Linked DNA regions of Homo sapiens: region 2 is linked to region 1. Evidence: fine-mapped expression QTL. A gene starts in region 1. The other region holds a variant in brackets. All regions are shown on one strand. Distances are between the middles of the regions. Region 1 holds the start of EPS15L1 (epidermal growth factor receptor pathway substrate 15 like 1). Region 2 overlaps EPS15L1 (epidermal growth factor receptor pathway substrate 15 like 1).

Region 1 (9,191 bases):
GGTTAAGGCATTCTTAGCCACATGATGAGATAGGAGGTCAGCACTAAAGACCTTGCTGATAAAACAGGTTGCAGTAAAGAAGCCGGCTAAAACCCACCAAAACCAAGATAGTGATGGGAGTGACCTCTGGTGGTCCTCACTGCTACACTCCCACCAGCGCCATGGCAGTTTACAAAGGTCATGGCAACATCAGGAAGTTACTGTATATGGCAGCCTGAAAAGGGGGCCGGGCGCGGTGGCTCACGCCTGTAATCCCAGCACTTTGGAAGGCTGAGATGGGTGGATCACGAGGTCAGGAGATCGAGACCATCCTGGCTAACACAGTGAAACCCTGTCTCTACTAAAAATACAAAAAAATTAGCCGGGCGTGGTGGTGGGTGCCTGTAGTCTCAACTACTCGGGAGGCTGAGGCAGGAGAATGGCGTGAACCCGGGAGGCGGAGCTTGCAGTGAGCCGAGATCGCGCCACTGCACTCCAGCCTGGGTGACAGAGCGAGACTCCGTCTCAAAAAATAAATAAATAAATACATAAATAAGTAAAAAGGGAAGGCATGAATAATCCACCCCTTGTCTAGCATATCATCAAGAAATAACCATAAAAATGAGCAACCTGGCCAGGCACAGTGGCTCAAGCCTGTAATTCCAGCACTTTGAGAGGCCGAGGCAGGCGGATCACTTGAGGTTGGGAGTTCAAGACCAGCCTAACCAACATGGAGAAACCCCACATCTACTAAAAATACAAAATTAGCTGGGCGTGGTGGTGCATGTCTCTAATCCCAGCTATTCAGGAGGCTGAGGCAGGAGAACCACTTGAACCCAGGAGGTGGAGGTTGTGGTGAGCTGAGATCCCGTCATTGCACTCCAGCCCTGGCAACAACAGTGAAACTTCTCCCAAAAAAAAAAAGCAACCAGCAGCCCTTGGGGCTGCTCTATGAAGTAGCCATTCCTTTATTCCTTTACTTTCCTAATAAACTTGCTTTCACTTTACTGTATGGACTCGCACTAATTCTTTCTTGGGTGAGATCCAAGAACCCTCTCGGGGTCTGGATCAAGACCCCTTTGCGGTAACAGTACAAAGGGTCTGATTGTGAGAAGTGGCAGGGATCACTGGAACTCCACTTCAGATCCCATCTGGATCATCAAAACATCAACCCTAAATAAATAAATTCAGGAAATATGGTTAAATATAGAGTTTAGTTTAGCACAAAAGTTTGAGGACGGCCACCCTGGAACACAGATTCCAAAGAATGGAAATCAGCATTCCAAACTGAGGAAGTTTGGGGGTCATTTATATAGGTAAGGTTTGGGAAGCTTGACAGCGTTTCTACATATTTCACACAAGGCAAGTACATAGTTAACAGTAATCTGATTAGTCAAGGCAGTGGTCTTTTTGGGAAGGGTATATTTAACATTCACATAGAGGACATAACAGTCACAGGACCTTTTGCACTATCTGGTCTGATTTAGGTGCAAGATAATAGAGGAAAGGTCAGCAATGAAGAAGGGCGATCTTAACGCTGATGCCATTTAGTCTTGAAATGAATCTACAGAGCAAGAACAGGAGAGTTAATCTATAATCTATAAGCAGAAGTTGTAGTTACATGCTGTCTGGCTCAGATCACACAGTCCCGTTTTCTTCAAGGCTCAACATAATTCTTAGGGTTCAAAAGTGTATGATTAAGTTTGGATTTTTTTTTTTTTTTTTGAGACGAAGTTTCTGTGTTGCCCAGGCTGGAGTGCAGTGGCGCGATCTCGGCTCACTGCAAGACCCGCCTCCTGAGTTCATGCCATTCTCCTGCCTCAGCCTCACAAGTAGCTGGGACTACAGGCACCCCCCACCATGCCCGGCTAAATTTTCGTATTTTTAGTAGAGATGGGGTTTCACCATGTTGGCCAGGATGGTCTCGATCTCCTGACCTCATGATCTGCCTGCCTCGGCCTTCCAAAGTGTTGGGATTTCAGGCGTGAGCCACCATGCCCGGCCTTTTTTTTTTTCTTTTTTTTCTTCTGAGACGGAGTTTTGCTCTTGTTGCCCAGGCTGGAGTGCAATGGTGCGATCTTGGCTCACTGCAACCTCCCCATCCCAGGTTCAAGCAATTCTCCTGCCTCAGCCTCCCGAGTAGCTGGGATTACAGGCACCCGCCACCACGCCTGGCTAATTCTTGTATTTTTAGTAGAGATGGGGTTTCACTGTGTTGGCCAGGCTGGTCTCGAATTCCTGACCTCGTGAACTGCCTGCCTCGGCCCTCCAAAGGGCTGGAATTACAGGTGTGGGCCACCGCGCCCAGCCAAGTTTGGATTATTTTTACAAGATGATGCTGGAGAGTTTCTATGGCCACCACCATTCTAGACTCTGATACTGGCACTTAAAGCCTGCATGCTACATTTCCTGGACGCCGTTGCCAATTGGCAACGTTCCTGTCATGCTTTATTAGAACAAAGTTGGGAGGCAGAAAGAGGGGAGAAACCATTTTTTCAGACTTCTGCCAGTGGCTTAGGTGGTGGTGACAACAACAACTGTGACTTTCGCAATCATGGTGGAGGCAACTGTGGCTAGCAAGGGTGAACACATCTGGGATCCTTCTGTAGGCACAGTGATTGTGGGTTATGGGTCCTCCTGTGCTTTATTTATTTATTTATTTTGAGACGGAGTTTCGCTCTTGTTGCCCAAACTGGAGTGCAGTGGCGTGATCTCAGCTCACTGCAACCTCCGCCTCCCAGGTTCAAGTGATTCTCCTGCCTCAGCCTCCCGAGTAGCTGGGATTACAGGTGCCCACCACCACAACCGGCTAATTTTTGTATTTTTAGTAGACACGGGATTTCATCATGTTGGCCAGGCTGGTCTCAAACTTCTGACCTCAGGTGATCCATCCACCTCGGCCTCCCAAAGTGCTGGGATTACAGGCGTGAGCCACTATGCCCAGCCACCTCCCCTGCTTTAATCTTTCAGCTCTAGAGAGGCTAGCAGCCTCATATAGTTATGAATCTTTAGGTAAACTTACCTTCCTCTTTTGTTCTTCCAGTACTTCCAACACTTTTATACTCAGTCCCCTGTAGTCGTTTATGTATTCATTTATTTTTATTTATTTATTTTTTAGACAGAGTCTCGCTCTGTCACCTAGGTTGGAGTGCAATGGTGAGTTCTCAGCTTATTGCAACCTTCCCCTCCCAGGTTCAAGCAATTCTCCTGCCTCAGCCTCCTGAGTAGCTGGGATTACAGGCACCTGCCACTGCACTGGGTTAATTTTTGTATTTTTAGTAAAGATGGGGTTTCTCCATGTTGGCCAGGCTGGTATCAATCTACCTGTCTCAACTGGATTGCTGGGATTACAAGTGTGAGCCACAGAGCCTGGCTCAATCCCCTGTATTCAATATCCTCTGTTTGAAGTACCTAGAAGGACTTCTCTTTTCCTTATGGAATACGTACTGATAAAGCACTCAAGACTGTTAAAAACCTTCATTACTCTATTGATGTAACAAAAGAAGCTGAGGCAAAGTTAATATAAGTAGAGAGTTTGGGCCAAGGTTGAGGACCGCAGTCCAGGAGACACAGATTCAAGTTGCCCTGAATGTATGCTTTGATTAGCAACAGTTACAAGTGGGTTCTTTTTGTTTTTGACTTTGTTTTGAGACAGAGTCTCACTCTGTCACCCAGGCTGGAGTGCAGTGGTGCAATCTTGGCTCACCGCAACCTCCACCTCCCGGGTTCAAGTGATTCTCTGGCCTCAGCCTCCTGAGTAGCTGGGACTACAGGCATGCACCACCACACCTGCTAATTTTTGTATTTTTTTTAGTAGAGATGGGGTTTCACCATATTGATGTTTCACCATACTGGCCAGGCTGGTCTCCAACTCCTGACCTCATGACCCTCCCACCTCGGCCTCCCAAAGTGCTGGGATTACAGGTGTAAGCCACTGTACCTGGCAACAAGTGGGTTCTTGTCTTATTTATTTATTTATTTTTGAGACAGAGTTTCGCTTCTGTTGCCCAGGCTGGATTGCAATGGTGTGATCTTGGCTCACTGAAACCTCTGCTTCCTGGGCTCAAGCAATTCTCCTGCCTCAGTCTCCTGAGTAGCTTGGATTTCAGGTGCCCGCCACCACAGCCAGGAGGACGCCTTGCGGGGCAGGGTGAGGGGGGCAGGGTGCGGGTCCCCCAAATTAGCGCGCACACACACACACACACACACACACACACACTGCGATCCTAGGAACAGGGCGCTTTGCGGGGCAGGGTGAGGGTCCCGACCCTCCGCGGGGTGGGCGACCGCCTCCCCAGGCGCACTGGCAGGGGGACGGCATCCCTAACAGAGAACCAGGCCTCGGCATGGGCTGGAGGGATGACACAGCATGGTCGACTCGGACAGCGGCCAGCGGCATGAGAGTCCGAACAACGTTGGAAGGAGGAGTAGGGGAACGGGCAAGAGAGCACGGAAGACGCAGATGCCTCAGGCCCAGCCCCTCCAGGCTGCGTGTGGGCGGCCCCGCCCCTGCCCCCGCCCCTCCCGGCCTGACTGCACATGCGTGGCCCTGTCTACGGCCCCGCCCTCTCCCGGGACAGGCGGCCTGCGCACCGCCCTCCCGTCGTCCCAGTGCGCACGCGTGGCTGCAGCCCCGCCCCCGTTCCCCCGGCGCTCGGAGCCCGAGTCCGCGGGAAGATGGCGGCGCCGCTCATCCCCCTCTCCCAGCAGGTACGGGCCGGGCGGGCCTGGGGGCGGCGCCGGGGTGCGGGGCGCGAGGCGAGCGGTGCGGCGAGGCTGAGGCGCTGGGAGACTCAGCCAGGCGGCGGCGGGGGCGGCGCGTGCTGAAGGGCTTGCGGCGGGCGGGTGGGCAGGCGGCCCTGAAGGTGACAGGCCGGGACCCGCGGCCTCCCGTGCCCGAGCGACCCTCGCGGGCACCGGCGAGGCGAGGAGGTGCGCAGCGCGTGTCCTCTCCGCCCAGGGCCCGGACCCTGCCGCCGCTGAAGCTCCCAGGCCGGGGACCCGCGGAGGCGCTGGGCTGCATCCCGGAGGGGTGGGCGAGGGGTGCGAGCGTTTCTGTCGGCGCGGCGGCCCAGCGAGTCTTTGTCTCCCTCCGGTCCCGGCGCCCGGGCGGGCAGGGTCCCGCCGGAGCCCGGACCCGTCAGCAGCAGTGCGATCTCAGACTGATCCCCTGCCTCCTTGGAAGCTGCTTCCGCCACCCCTGCACCGGGCGCAGATCGTACGTCTCCGGGCGCCTCTCTGTGTCCTCAAATTCGCCTGATGCGCTTATGAAGGGGCAGTATCGATAGCGCGACACAGACATGCGAAAAAGAGCCATGCGTAGGCAGCTCTGTTATTTGGGAGAGACTTTCATTCATTCATTTTCTATCCATCCCTCAAATGTGCGTTGGGTCAGGTGCTGGGAGCGCTGCATTCTTCCAGACAGACAAGGTCGCTGCTTTCCTGGAGGTGACACTCGTGGGAACTAGAAACTACCTGTGTTATGCTAATCACAGCTGCCTTTATTTGCTGAATACCTGTGTTGTGCAAAGCACCATATAAGCATTTTGCTAGAATGATCTAGCACAGCATGGTGATTAAGAGTGAGGACACAGGGTCAGATCATGTGTTCAAATCTTGGCTCCAGCCCCGATTTCTCTGTGCCTTTGGTTGAAGCTCTTAGCCATTCCACCCATCAGTTGCTTCCTTTGGAAAATGGAGATATAAAAATGTGTTGGGATTATGTGAAAATTAAGCACGTGAAAAAGCGCTTAGAACAGTGCCTAGCATATGAGAGGCACTCAGTGATCCTATAATTACTGTCATCATTTAATCTCTGCCAGATTTGGACGTTTGGGAGTAGAGACCGCAGCAATTAAGAATTCCAAACCCAAAGAGAGTTGATAGGCCGGTTGCATGCTTGCATGACTGGTTAGCTGATCCAAGGAGAGAGAAGTGCACAGCTAGCCAATTTGCAACACTGTCACTAAGTTAACAGTGCTAAAACCCGGTGATTATTAATTAGCAAGTTCTTGTTACTGACATGAAAGTGCTCTGTAAACTGTTAAGTGTCCTACCGATAATAGGTGTTAATAGCTAAGTGCTACAGTTTAGAGTATGTAGTCAGGGGGTGGGGGGCGGGGAAGGCGGGAGTCGGGGGAAAATCACCTAAGATCATTTCATGAGAAAGCACTAAGCACTCCCAGTTTGGGAGGCGTGGATCTTTCTAAAACTTCCTGTCCAATTTTTTTTTTTTTGAGATGGAGTATTGCTCTGTCACCCAGGGTGGAGTGCAGTGGCATGATCTCAGCTCACTGTAACCTCCGCCTCCCGAGTTCAAGTGATTCTCCTGCCTCAGCCTCCTGAGTAGCTGGGACTACAGGCACGTGCTACCACACCCGGCTAATTTTTGTATTTTTTTTTTAGTGGAGACGGGGTTTCACCATTTTGGCGAGGCTCGTGTCAAACTCCTGAACTCGAGTGATCCACCCGCCTTGGCCTCCCAAAGTGCTGGGATTACAGGCGTTAGCCACTGCGCCTGGCCAGGTCACTGACTTCTTAGCCTCTTCCTGTTCCTTTCCCTATACATTTGTTGAATGAAGGCGTGGCCTGGTTTTCTTCGTTTGGAAATGTCAGCACTTCTTTACACTTGCTCTCGAGTGAAAATCTACACCATGGGTTACTGTTGGCCCAGGTGTGAGGCATGGCCCTCCCAGGCCCTTACTGTCTAGCTCAGGAGATCACTTGGGTTCACAGATAACTCTGGGGGAACCAAGGGTATAATTCCAAAATTTTTGGTTGGGGGCAAAAGGGAAGCACCCTGCAGCAGGTGGCTGTGATCTGGTTGGATTTAGGTGACAGAGCACACTTGGCAAGCAGATGGCCAGGTGAAGGTGAGCAAAGTGGATAACCCAGCGGGCTAGCCTAGGGGAGGAGGGGTGTGTTTTCTCCACCCCCACTCCTGTCTGCACTTTTCCCATCAGCATCTTTTTCAGTCTGTTCTGTACTCCATGACATCATCTCAGAATCTCCTTCCTTATATACTCTTTTCTGACCCTGAATATCAACGTAAATTCGAAAGGTCTGCACCTCTGCCTCTTTAGGAGTGATTTTTTTTTCCCAACAGCATCTCAGTGATTTGTGTGTCTCCCTGTCCCCCTGCTCAGCTCTCTTCTGCTTTCCAAAAAGCCTTCCGTGGAAATGCATCCAGATCTCTTTCCTCCTTGTACTCCCCGAGGTTACCGGTGGCCCCTCCGTCCTTAACCCCGGTGCCCTGTGGCTGCAGCCGATCCTCCTCGAACTCCGCAACACTGGAGCCCGTCGGTCTTCACTCTTCATCCTCTCTCCTTTCAGTCTCTCCTTCTTGTCCCCTAATTTCAGCCTCCCTACCTGCATCTTATCTCTCTGTGCGCTCCCTCCCCTGGAGCTTCTGTGCAGAGGACTTCAAACCTGCCTTCTAGAGTCCAGAAGGTGTCTCTCTCCTGCACCTCTGCCAGCCTGCTGGACTCTGGAATGGGCCATTTCCTTGCCATGCCCCAAAGTGGTCTGGGCCATTCTACTTCCTACTTGCCCACTCCCTCCCACTTAATCCCACGCCACTGTGGAAGTCATCTTTTTGATTTTTGAGACAGGGTCTCGCTCTGTCCCCCAGGCTGGAGTGCAGTGGTAGGATCATAGCTCACTGCAACCTCAAACTCCTGGGCTCAAGCAATTCTCCCACCTTGGCCTCTCAAGTAGCTGGGACTACAGGAGCGCAGCACCAATCATACCCAGCTAATTAAACAATTTTTTTTTTGAAGAGATGAAGTCTTGCTATGCTGCCTAGGCAGGTCTTAAACCCCTAGCCTCAAGCAATCCTTCTATCTCAGCCTCCTAAAGTATTGGAATTACGGTGTCAGCCACTGCATCTGGCTAGGATTCATCTTCTAAAACATATTCCCCTGTTCCAAAAACCTTTCACAGCTCCCATTCCCCTTCCTCCAAAAGAACTCAGTTTATGGCTGGGCGCTGTGGCTCATGCCTATAATCCCAGCACTTTAGGAGGCTGAGGTGGATGGATTGCTTGAGGCCAGGAGCTCGAGACCAGCCTGGCCAACATAGCAAAACCCTGTCTGTACTAAAAATACAAAAGTTAGCCAGGCATAGTGGCAAACGCCTATAATCCCAGCAACTTGGGAGGCTGAGGCACAAGAATCGCTTGAAACCAGGCGGCGGAGGTTGCAGTGAGCTGAGATCGCGCCACTGCACCCCAGCCTGGGCAACAGGGTGAGACTCAGTCTCAAAAAAAGTCAGCTTTGATGACCTTAGTAAGCCCTGAATCGACTCCACCTAACCTTGCTGGGTCCCTTTCCTGCACTTCTGGCTCTTGGCAACACTTTCTAGCCTCAGCATCCTTAGCTGTGTTGCTCCGGTTGCTAGAACATCACTGTGAGCTCCTGCCGTATGCTGCCTGCCCTGAAGGACGGTCTTTGAGGCCTCCCCTGTGTTGTCCTCCCTTAGCCCCACCCGAATGAGAGTTCTCTCCCTTGTACCTTCCGTGGGTCCCTTTTGTGACCGCTGTACCTAGGAAGCGCGTGGTAACTGGGCTCAGTGATGAGGAGAGACTGCCCTGGGCCCAAAGAGCTACACCTTCCTCCTTTCCCCCTTGTTATGTGTTCTTCATCCAGGAGCTTTTGCTGTATTTCAGTAGGTGCCTCCATTCTAGGAGGCTTTTATTCCCCTTTTACAAGTGAGGAAACCAAGACCCACAGAAATAGAGTAACTTGCTGAAGTCTCATAGTTGGTGGGCGCAGAGCTGAGGTCACACCTGCGTCCTCCTGCCGCAGAGCCCTGCTGTTCCAGATGGCCTGCTGGGCACCTCTCCCAGAGCAGCACCCGGCCAGTGTGTCTGGAATGAATGCTGAGTGGCTCGGACACTTACTTGTCCTCTTGTCCCTTGTTTCTTTTCTTCCTCTGAAATAAGTGCTAGTCTATCTTAGTAGAATGCTAATGGCAATGCAGTCTAAATTGATGAGAACGAAGTTTTAGAGTAAAATCCACTCCTGAAAGATCCAGAATTCCCTGACTGTCACTTATTGACCTGCACTGGCCTGTTTTTTTTTTGTTTTTGTTGTTGTTGTTGTTTTTTCGACTAAATAGATTCTCCCTGGGCAAGACCCCTCCACCTCCATTCTGAACTTTAAAACAACTTTCCAGGCCGGGTGCAGTGGCTGACGCCTGTAATCCTAGCACTT
Region 2 (9,191 bases), 120 kb after region 1:
AGCCAGTGTGTTTCCCAGCCACTATTGGTTTTGCATCGGCCACAGACATCCAGATTCTGGCCCGTGTGACCCACCCAGATACGAGAACTAGAAGGTGGCCCCGTCCAGGGCTAAGACAGCAGACACAGAGGGAGCTGCGGAGTCCCCTTTCAGGAGAGCTCTCCCAGGCCTCACAGCCCAGCGTGCCTCCTAAGTGCATACAGACCTCACCAATGCAAGTCTCCACAGTGGATTCGTGAGCTGGCCTTGAACCGGTCGACTCTGAAGGCACCAGGAACTTTCCTGCTGACACCTTTCATTTGGAAACACAGACCCGTCAAGGGAAGGCGCTTCAGTGACACTGTGACACGGGGGCTCAGTGGGGCCAAAGGCGGCCAGAGGGCTGTGGTTCAGACCCAGCAGGCCGGTTACTTGGTCGTTCCAGGCTTTGATTTGGATCCAGGCGAACATTACTGTCAGCTCCCACCCACCCTGTCCTCAAGGCTGGTGGAGGGTGAGGTCCCCGTCAGCTGCACTGTCTCCCTCCCACTGTTGTCAGCAGCACCATGGAATAATTTCCACCTGCACTTGTTGGTTTTTCCTTGTTTTTCTCCCCATGAGGTGTTGGAAAATTCCCCAAACTGGGGCGGGGGGGATGCTTATCTGTGCCCCTGGCAGTGACACAATGGCGGGGAGGGAGTCCGACCTGGAGACTCATCAGACCCCCAAGTGTTTAGCTGGGCAGTGCCTCTTTAAGAAGTCAAGACTCAGCCCTTCCTCCCAGGGACATCTTTTCTTGATACTGACACTCCGCCTGTCCCCCATCTGGGTCCTGAGGCCAGCTAGAGGGAGGCCTCCAGGGCCCCGCATCCCCCTCACTGCCACATCTGCCTCCCAACCAGGTTCCTTGCATTTATCTGCTCCTGCACCTTGCCCAGTCCCCCCAGCCCTGCCATCTGGCCCTCCTCTCTCCTGCTTCCCGCTCATGCCACCATCAAGCCGTGAAATATCCAGACGCTGCCAATCTGATCACCCAACTCGCTCGCCCAAGGAGCCTCCACGGGGAAATCCCAGCTCCTTCCTGGGGCCCACGAGCCCCTCCTCAGTCTGGCTTATCCCACCCCACGCTTCATCCTGGCTACCCCAAGGTCGGGCACTGAGCCTCACACCCAGAACCTCGCAGGGACGCATCCTCCCTGTCAGTTTCACCTAGTATCCTGCTCCCCACAGGCCTGGGGGGGAAAAAGTCTAGAGTGTGAGCCACCCCTTCCCTGGCCTCAGTGTCCCCAGCTGTCAGAGGGATGAGATGACAGCGGGCCCACCCCCAGGTTGTCACGCAGACCTAGTGCTGCGTGTGGTGGAGAGGCCGTGAGTGTTCCTGTGTGCTTCTTTCCCCCACCTTCCTGGGTTAGTCTGCAGGGCCCTCCTCGAGAGCCTGGGTCCTTGGGTCCTGGATCGTTCTGGGATTGTTTGTATATTTCTGCTCCCAAGGGTGCCTGGGGAAGAGCCACTGCGCATGTTATCTTTGGTGTTACTCCAGTGTTGAGCAGAGAGCTGGTCAGAGGCAGTGCATCGCAGAGAGACATTAATAAGGGAATCCTTTGAATCCCTAAGCAGCAGCAGCTTTCCTGAGGGGGCCGATGATGCCAGTGACCTCTCAGGGAAGTCTGGGACATTGGGACCCACCCTGGGGGAGGAGCTTGTGGGATGTGGCTTTTCTTTTCATGACTAAAGTACTTTGAGTTGTTTGAAATCACCTATCTCAGCATCAAGATGGTTTTCTCCCTTTTTTAAGTTTTTATTTTAACTGAACATTTTAGAAAAACACCCCACGGATAAAAACTTGACTAAATGGCAGTGTAAGTGCCACACCTTTTGTCAGTGTTCTGGGAGAAATTGACCCTCAGAGCCGGGTGCGGTGGCTCACGCCTGTAATCCCAGCACTTTGGGAGGCTGAGGCGGGTGGATCACAAGGTCAGGAGTTCAAGACCAGCCTGACCAACATGGTGAAACCCCGTCTCTACGAAACATACAAAAATTAGCTGGGCATGGTAGCGCATGCCTGTAATCCCAGCTACTCAGGGGGCTGAGGCAAGAGAATCCCTTGAACCTGGGAGGTGAATGTTGCAATGAGCCGAGATCGCGCCATTGCACTCCAGCCTGGCGACAGAGCGAGACTCCATCTCAAAAAAAAAAAAAGAAAAAGAAAAAGAAAATGACCCTCAGAGGGTCTCAGAGCTCTCTGGAGCATGGCTGGAGGTAGAAATACCACATTCCCAGAGTGCAGAATTGTCTGCGCCGTGGGGCTTTAGAGCCATGCACGCTGGAAGTTCCCCATCTTTGCACCTCTTGGCCACCAGCGTCAAGGGCCCATCCTCACTTCTCTGCGTGGGGCGGGGTGGCTGGTTTCTTTGAGGCCCAGAGGTCATGGTTAAGGTCACACTCAATCACATGCATCCCGTCCACTCTGCTTTCCAGATGGGGGGCCTGAGACAGGCTCGCACGCCCACTGGGCCCAGCCAAGACATGCTTATCCCCTGCACATCGGACCCTCCGCTGGGCGGTGGGCAGGACCCTGACCCCTCCCACGCATTCCCTGCCTCCCTCCAGCTTGCAGGTCCCAGCCCCAGGGCCACATCACCCACTCTCCGTTTTTCCTTTGCAGTTTGGCAATGAGGAGCAGCAGCTGGCGTGGGCCAAGCGGGAGAGCGAGAAGGCGGAACAGGAGAGGCTGGCGCGGCTGCGGCGGCAGGAGCAGGAGGACCTGGAACTGGCCATCGCGCTCAGCAAGGCTGACATGCCTGCCGCCTAGGCGAGGGCCGTGTGTAGGCGGGACAGGGCACGGGCGGGTTCCAGAGAGGGGGCAGTGCAGATGTCTATATATACACACACACACCGTCGCCACCGTACTCCAAGGACCGGGACTCGGGGGCTTGTTCAGGGTGAGCAGACTCGGCTGCAAGACCTGGAAAGGTCACATCTCCTGGGGAAGCCCTTACAGAGGCCTTGGCCACCACTTCTGCAGGTCCGTCTCTCCACTGTGCCATCCCCCCCGGGGCTGACTGCCTCCCGCTCTTCCTCTGGGGACGAACACACAGCGGTCAGTCGAGGAGAGGAAGCACCCAGGGCTTCCCCGCCTCCTCCCTACTCATAGCTGCAGACATCCCCACCCGCCCTCCCACGCATCAGTCAGACACTCCCCCAGTGGTGTATGCACTCGTTGTATAAAATGAAGTTTGAATGATTAATATAAAATATTTTAATACAAAACAAGAGAAGCTTCTTTAATCTCTGTAAACATTGTTTTCCCTGCATGGGTATCAGGAAGCAGATCAACCAGGTGGAACATTGCTCTTTAAATCTTAAGTTTTTACTTTTAAAAAAAATTTTTTTTTAAGAGATGAGATCTTGCCATGTTGCCCAGGCTGGTCTCAAACTCCTTGACTCACACAATTCTCCTGTCTCAGCATCCCAAAGTGCTGGGATTACAGGCGTGAGCCACCAAGCCCTGCCCATTTTTATGTTTTAACCAACTTTATTTTTTAGGACAGTTTTAAACCTGCAGAAAAATCACAAAGATACAAAGAGTTCCCATAAGCCCCTTAGACAATTTATCCTTAAAAAAAATTTTTTTTTGAAACAGGGTCTGAGCTCTGTCACCCAGGGTGGAGTGCAGTGGTGTGATCTCAGCTCACTGCAACCTCCACTTCCCCGGGCTCAAGTGATCCTCCCACTTCAGCCTCCCAAAGGGCTGGGATTACAGACATGTGCCACTGTGCCTGGCCAGTTTTAAATTTGCAGAAAGATCGCAAAGAAAATACGAAGGGTTCCCATAAGCCCCTTAGAGAGTTTACCTTATTTTTAACATCTTACATTACACATTACTTACATCCCAATTAATGAACCAATACGGATTCATTATTATTAACTAGAGTCCTTACTTTATTCAGAATTGCTCTGTTTTTTTGGCTGAGTGCGGTGGCTCATGCCTGTAATTCCAGCACTTTGGGAGGCCGAGGTGGGGGGGATCACTTGAGGTCAGGAGTTGGGGACCAGCCTGGCCAACATAGTGAAACCCTGTCTCTACTAAAAAAAAACAACACAAAAATTAGCCGCGCGTGGTGGTGCGCACTTGTAATCCCAGCTACTCGAGAGGCTGAGGCAGGAGAATCACTTGAAACTCAGGAGGTGGAGTTGCAGTGAGCCAATATCATGCCATTGCACTCTGGCCCAGGCGACAAGAAAGACACCGTCTAAAAAAAAAAATGCAGGTAGGGCACGGTGGCTCACACCTGTAATCCCAGCCATTTGGGAGGCCGAGGCAGGTGGATCATTTGAGGTCAGGAGTTCAAGACCAGCCTGGCCAACATGGTGAAACCCCGTCTCTACTAAAAATACACAAAAAATAGCCGGGTGGTAGTGGAGCATGCCTGTAATCCCAGCTACTCGGGAGACTGACGCAGGAGAATCGCTTGAACCTGGGAGGTGGAGGTTGTGGTGGGCCAAGATCGCACCTCTGCACTCCAGTCTGGGCCACAGAGTAAGACCCTGTCAAAAAAAAAAAATTCGTTTTTCCCCCTAATGTCCTTTTTCTGTCCCAGGATCCCCCATGACATTCAGACCTTACATCTCGTTAGAATTCTCTGGGCTGGGTGGAACCCCGTCTCTACTAAAAATAGAAAAATTAGCCGGGCGCAGTGGCAGGCGCTTGTAATCCCAGCTACTCAGGAGGCTGAGGCAGGAGAATCGCTGGAACCCGGGGGGCAGAGGTTGCAGTGAGCCGAGATCACACCGCTGCACTCCAGCCTGGGCGACAGAGTGAGACTCTTGTCTCAAGGAAAAAAAAAAGAATTCTCTGGGCTGTGTGAGTTTCTCAAACGTTGTGTGTTTTTGATGACAGTTACAAGGAGAACTGGTCAGGTGCTTTGTAGAATGTCCCTCCACTGGGATTTGTCTGATGTTTTTCCCGTGACTAGATGTGGAGCTGGACTTGGGGGAGGAAGACCACAGAGATGAAGTGTATTGACATCAAATCACATCAAAGATCCATGTCATCAACATGACTTAGAAGGCTGGTGTTGACCTGGATCCACTGGACATAGATTTATTTTTATTTATTATTTTATTTTATTTTGGGACAGAGTTTCACTCTTGTCACCCAAGCTGGAGTACAATGGTGTGATCTCAGCTCGCTGCAGCCTCCACCTCCCAAGTTCAAGCAATTCTCCTGTCTCAGCCTCCCAAGTAGCTGGAATTACAGGCATTAGGCAACAT[G/A]CCTGGCTAATTTTTTGTATTTTTAGTAGAGATGGGGTTTTGCCATGTTGGCCAGGCTAGTCTCAAACTCCTGGCCTCAGGTAGATTTATTTTTAAAAAGCAGTTTTTCAGCCTCAGATATTTTGTTACATAGACTCGTCTCAGGGCAGTAATTCATGAGATTGAAAATACAGGGCCGGGCGTGGTGGCTAACGCCTGTAATCCCAGCACTTTGGGAGGCCAAGGCAGGTGGATCAAGAGGTCAGGAGATTGAGACCATCCTGGCCAACACAGTGAAACCCCGTCTCTACTAAAAATACAAAAATTAGCTGGGCATGGTAGTGGGCACCTGTAATCCCAGCTACTCGGGAGGCTGAGGCAGGAGAGTGGCTTGAACCCGGGAGGCAGAAGTTGCAATGAGCCGAGATCGTGCCACTGCACTCCAACCTGGTGACAGAGCAAGACTCTGTCTCAAAAAAAAAAAAAAAAAAAAAAAAAAGGCCAGGAGCAGTGGCTCATGCCTGTAATCCCAGCACTTTGGGAGGCCGAGGTGGGAGGATAACTTGAGGCCAGGAATTCGAGACCAGCCTGGCCAATGTGGTGAAACCCCATCTCTACTAAAAATACAAAAAATTAGCCAGGCGTGGTGACAGGCACCTGTAATCCCAGCTACTCAGGAGGCTGAGACAAGGAGGATCGCTTGAACCTGGGAGGCAGAGGTTGCAGTGAGCCAAGATCGTGCCACTGCAGTCTAGCCTGGGCAACAGAGCGAGACTCCATCTCCAAAAACAAAAAAAGAAAATCCTCAGGAAAAGGAAGAGAAAAAATATTGGCCATCCATTAAGTGGAAGTGGATCATCATAAAGGTCTTCTTCCTCATCATCTTCCCATTGAGTAACCCGAGGAGGAGGAGGAGGAAGGGTTGGTCTTGGGGTGGCAGAGGTGGAAGAAAATCCACATACAGGCAGGGCACAGTGGCTCATGCCTGTAATTCCAGCACTTCAGGAGGCTGAGGCGAGTGGATCACCTGAGGTCAGGAGTTCGAGACCAGCCTGGCCAACATGGTAAAACCCCGTCTCTACTAAAAATACAAAAATTAGCTGGGTGTCGTGGCAGATGCCTGTAATCCTAGCTATTAGGGAGGCTGAGGCAGGAGAGTCACTTGAACCCGGGAGGCGGAGGTTGCAGTGGGCTGAGATCGCACCACTGCACTCCAGCCTGGGCAACAAGAGTGAGACTCGGGCTCAAAACAAAGAAAATCCACATATGACTGAACCCACCCAGTTCAAACCTGTGTTGTTCAAGGGTCATCTATAAACCATAAACTGAAGTTTATGGTGGATTTGGGCGAATGTAAAGATTCCAAACCTTTGGTAATCCCCCTTTTCCAGGTTACAGACCCTCGAGGGGTCCCTGCAGTCCTGGAGATGAGGGTGTTGGGAGGGGACGTCTTCTTGGTGCCCATGGAATGGGCCTGCTTTGTGGATTGGGGCCTGGTGGGGCCTCGTGGGCTTTGTAACCTCTGAGATGCCCCTAATCTTCTCTGCAAAAACGAGCAGCTTCCTGAAAGTGGTCATGGCCGGAGGCAATTCCCAATACTTCCTTCCTCCTGCAGGAAAACCCCAGAGTGAATCTGAAGGTCCCAAGCCATGTGCTTCTGCCGTGATAGATCCCTTTGGAGAAGGCGCTGAGTCACCTCTCTCCAGGGTAGTCACAGCTTTGGCACCATTTGGTTTGGGACTTCACAATTTTCACAGCGATTCAGCTTCCATTATCTTGTTGGAAACTCAAAGCAACCTTGTAAATGAAGAGGGTGGATGTTAGCCCATTTTCCTGAGGGAAAACTGAGACTCATTCCCTGCAGTCATTTGCCCAGAGCTCCGAAGCCAGCCAGGGGCGGAGGCTCGTTTTGCTGATTTGAGAAAAGAATTGAGGGTTTCTTAGAAAACTTCAGGGTTTCTAGTTTCTTGTTGTCTTCTGCTTATTTGCATATTCACCGTACCCAGAAGAGGCAGGTGATGGCTCTTGATATCTTAGAAATGGAAAACCATGTATTGAATTAGGAGCTCTTACCCAGGGGAGGGGACGTTTTTAGGGAAAGCAGTGAACCCCTGAATGCACATTTGCTGGTTTTTTGTTTTTGTTCTTTTTTTTTTTTTTTTTTTTTTGAATCGGAGTCTTGCTTTGTCACCAGGCTGGAGTGCAGTGGCGTGATCTCAGCTCACTGCAACCTCTACCTCCTGGGTTCAAGTGATTCTCCTGCCTCAGCCTCCCAAGTAGCTGGGACTACAGGCACACGCCGCCATGCCTGGCTAATTTTTGTATTTTTATTAGAGATGAGGTTTCACCATGTTGGCTAGGATGGTCTCGATCTCTTGACCTCGTGATTCGCCTGCTTCAGACTCCCAAAGTGCTGGGATTACAGGCATGAGCCACCGCACCCAGCCCTGGTTTGTTTTTTATTGTATGTGGGTTTGCAGTGTTCATAACTTTTTATCTTTTTTTTTCCCCTTTTTTAAGAGATGGGGGTCTCGCTCTCTCACCCAGGCTGGAGTGCATGGCGCAATCATAGCCCACTGCAGCCTTGAACTCCTGGGCTCAAGTGATCCTCCTGCCTCAGCCTCCTGAGTAGCTGACCACATCCGGCTAATTTTTTTTTTTTTTTTTTTTTTTTTTTTTTTTGAGACGGAGTCTCGCTCTGTCACCCAGTCTGGAGGGCAGTGGCACGATCTCGGCTCACTGCAAGCTCCGCCTCCCGGGTTCACGCCATTCTCCTGCCTCAGCCTCCTGAGTAGCTGGGACTACAGGCGCCCGCCACCACGCCCAGCAAATTTTTTTGTATTTTTAGTAGAGACGGGGTTTCACCGTGTTAGCCAGGATGGTCTCGATCTACTGACCTCTTGATCTGCCCACCTCAGCCTCCCAAAGTGCTGGGATTACAGGCATGAGCCACCGTGCCCGGCCCTGGCTAATTTTTTTTAATTTTTATTTTATTTTTATTTTTATAGAAACAGGGTCTCACTATGTTGGCCAGGCTGATCTCCAACTCCTGGCCCCAAGTGACCCTCCCGCTTCGGCCTCCCAAAGTGCTGCTGATGACAGGTGTGAGCCACTGTGCCCAGCCTCCATCTGATTTTTAAAGAGGTCCTCAGACCCTTTAAAAAGTTAGAAGCCAGTCTCAAATCCTGTTTCCTTCCTTCCCTGCTACACACACACACACACACACACACACTCCCCTGCTGTGTAAATAATCAACATCAAATCCACAAATCCATCCCCTCTCCCATTGGCAGTCTCTTCCACGGCAAAGGACACTCACGCCCTTTCCTGAAGAATAGAGTATCCAATTGGAACAAATGTATGATGAAAATTTCCAAACATAATAGTTGAAGAGAAAAGGACAGTAAACACCCCCACCCAGCGTCAACTGTCATCCAGATTTTCCACCTTTGCCGCATGGCTGTCTTCCTTTGCTCTGGAGAAGCACTTTAGAGCAAGTTGGAGTCAGGATGCCATTTCGCCCACGTGCCCTGAAGCGCACGTCACTGAGACGTGTGGCGACTGACATGCTAACGTATACTCGATGCCAAGGTCACGTCTGAGAAAATGAACAATGACCCCTCCTAGCCATCAGATCTTTCACATAAGAGGCAACTTTTGATTGTTTTTTTTCAAATGGTTTCTTTCTCTCTCTCTCTCTCTTTTTTTTTTTTTTTTTTTTTGAGATGGAGCCTTGCTCTGTCTCCAGGCTGGAGTGCAGTGGCGCGATCTCAGCTCACTGCAACCTCCACCTCCTGGGTTCAAGCGATTCCCCTGCCTCAGCCTCCCAAATAGCTGGGATTACAGGCACCTGCCACCATGCCCGGCTAATTTTTTGTATTTTAGTAGAGATGGGGTTTCACCATGTTGGCCAAGATGGTCTCGATCTCCTGACCTCGTGATCTGCCTGCCTTGGCCTC

Evidence for each region. PIP is the estimated chance that this variant, and not a neighbour inherited with it, causes the effect.
Region 2: its variant is fine-mapped to the expression of EPS15L1 in whole blood (TOPMed, PIP 0.98).

Annotation. Positions count from the first base shown.
Region 1 is chr19:16,467,411-16,476,601 of GRCh38, reverse strand. EPS15L1 (epidermal growth factor receptor pathway substrate 15 like 1) reads left to right here and starts at 4,632. Exons shown (of 24, transcript NM_001258374.3): 1 at 4,632-4,689. The coding sequence starts at 4,657. RefSeq lists silencers at 4,401-4,800, 4,861-5,080 and enhancers at 5,161-5,310, 4,543-5,454.
Region 2 is chr19:16,349,305-16,358,495 of GRCh38, reverse strand. It overlaps EPS15L1 (epidermal growth factor receptor pathway substrate 15 like 1), which reads left to right. Exons shown (of 24, transcript NM_001258374.3): 24 at 2,645-3,249. The coding sequence ends at 2,791. Among named protein-coding and RNA genes, the nearest start is that of KLF2, 29 kb to the right of the region's middle. The variant G/A (reference allele first, on the strand shown) is at 5,254.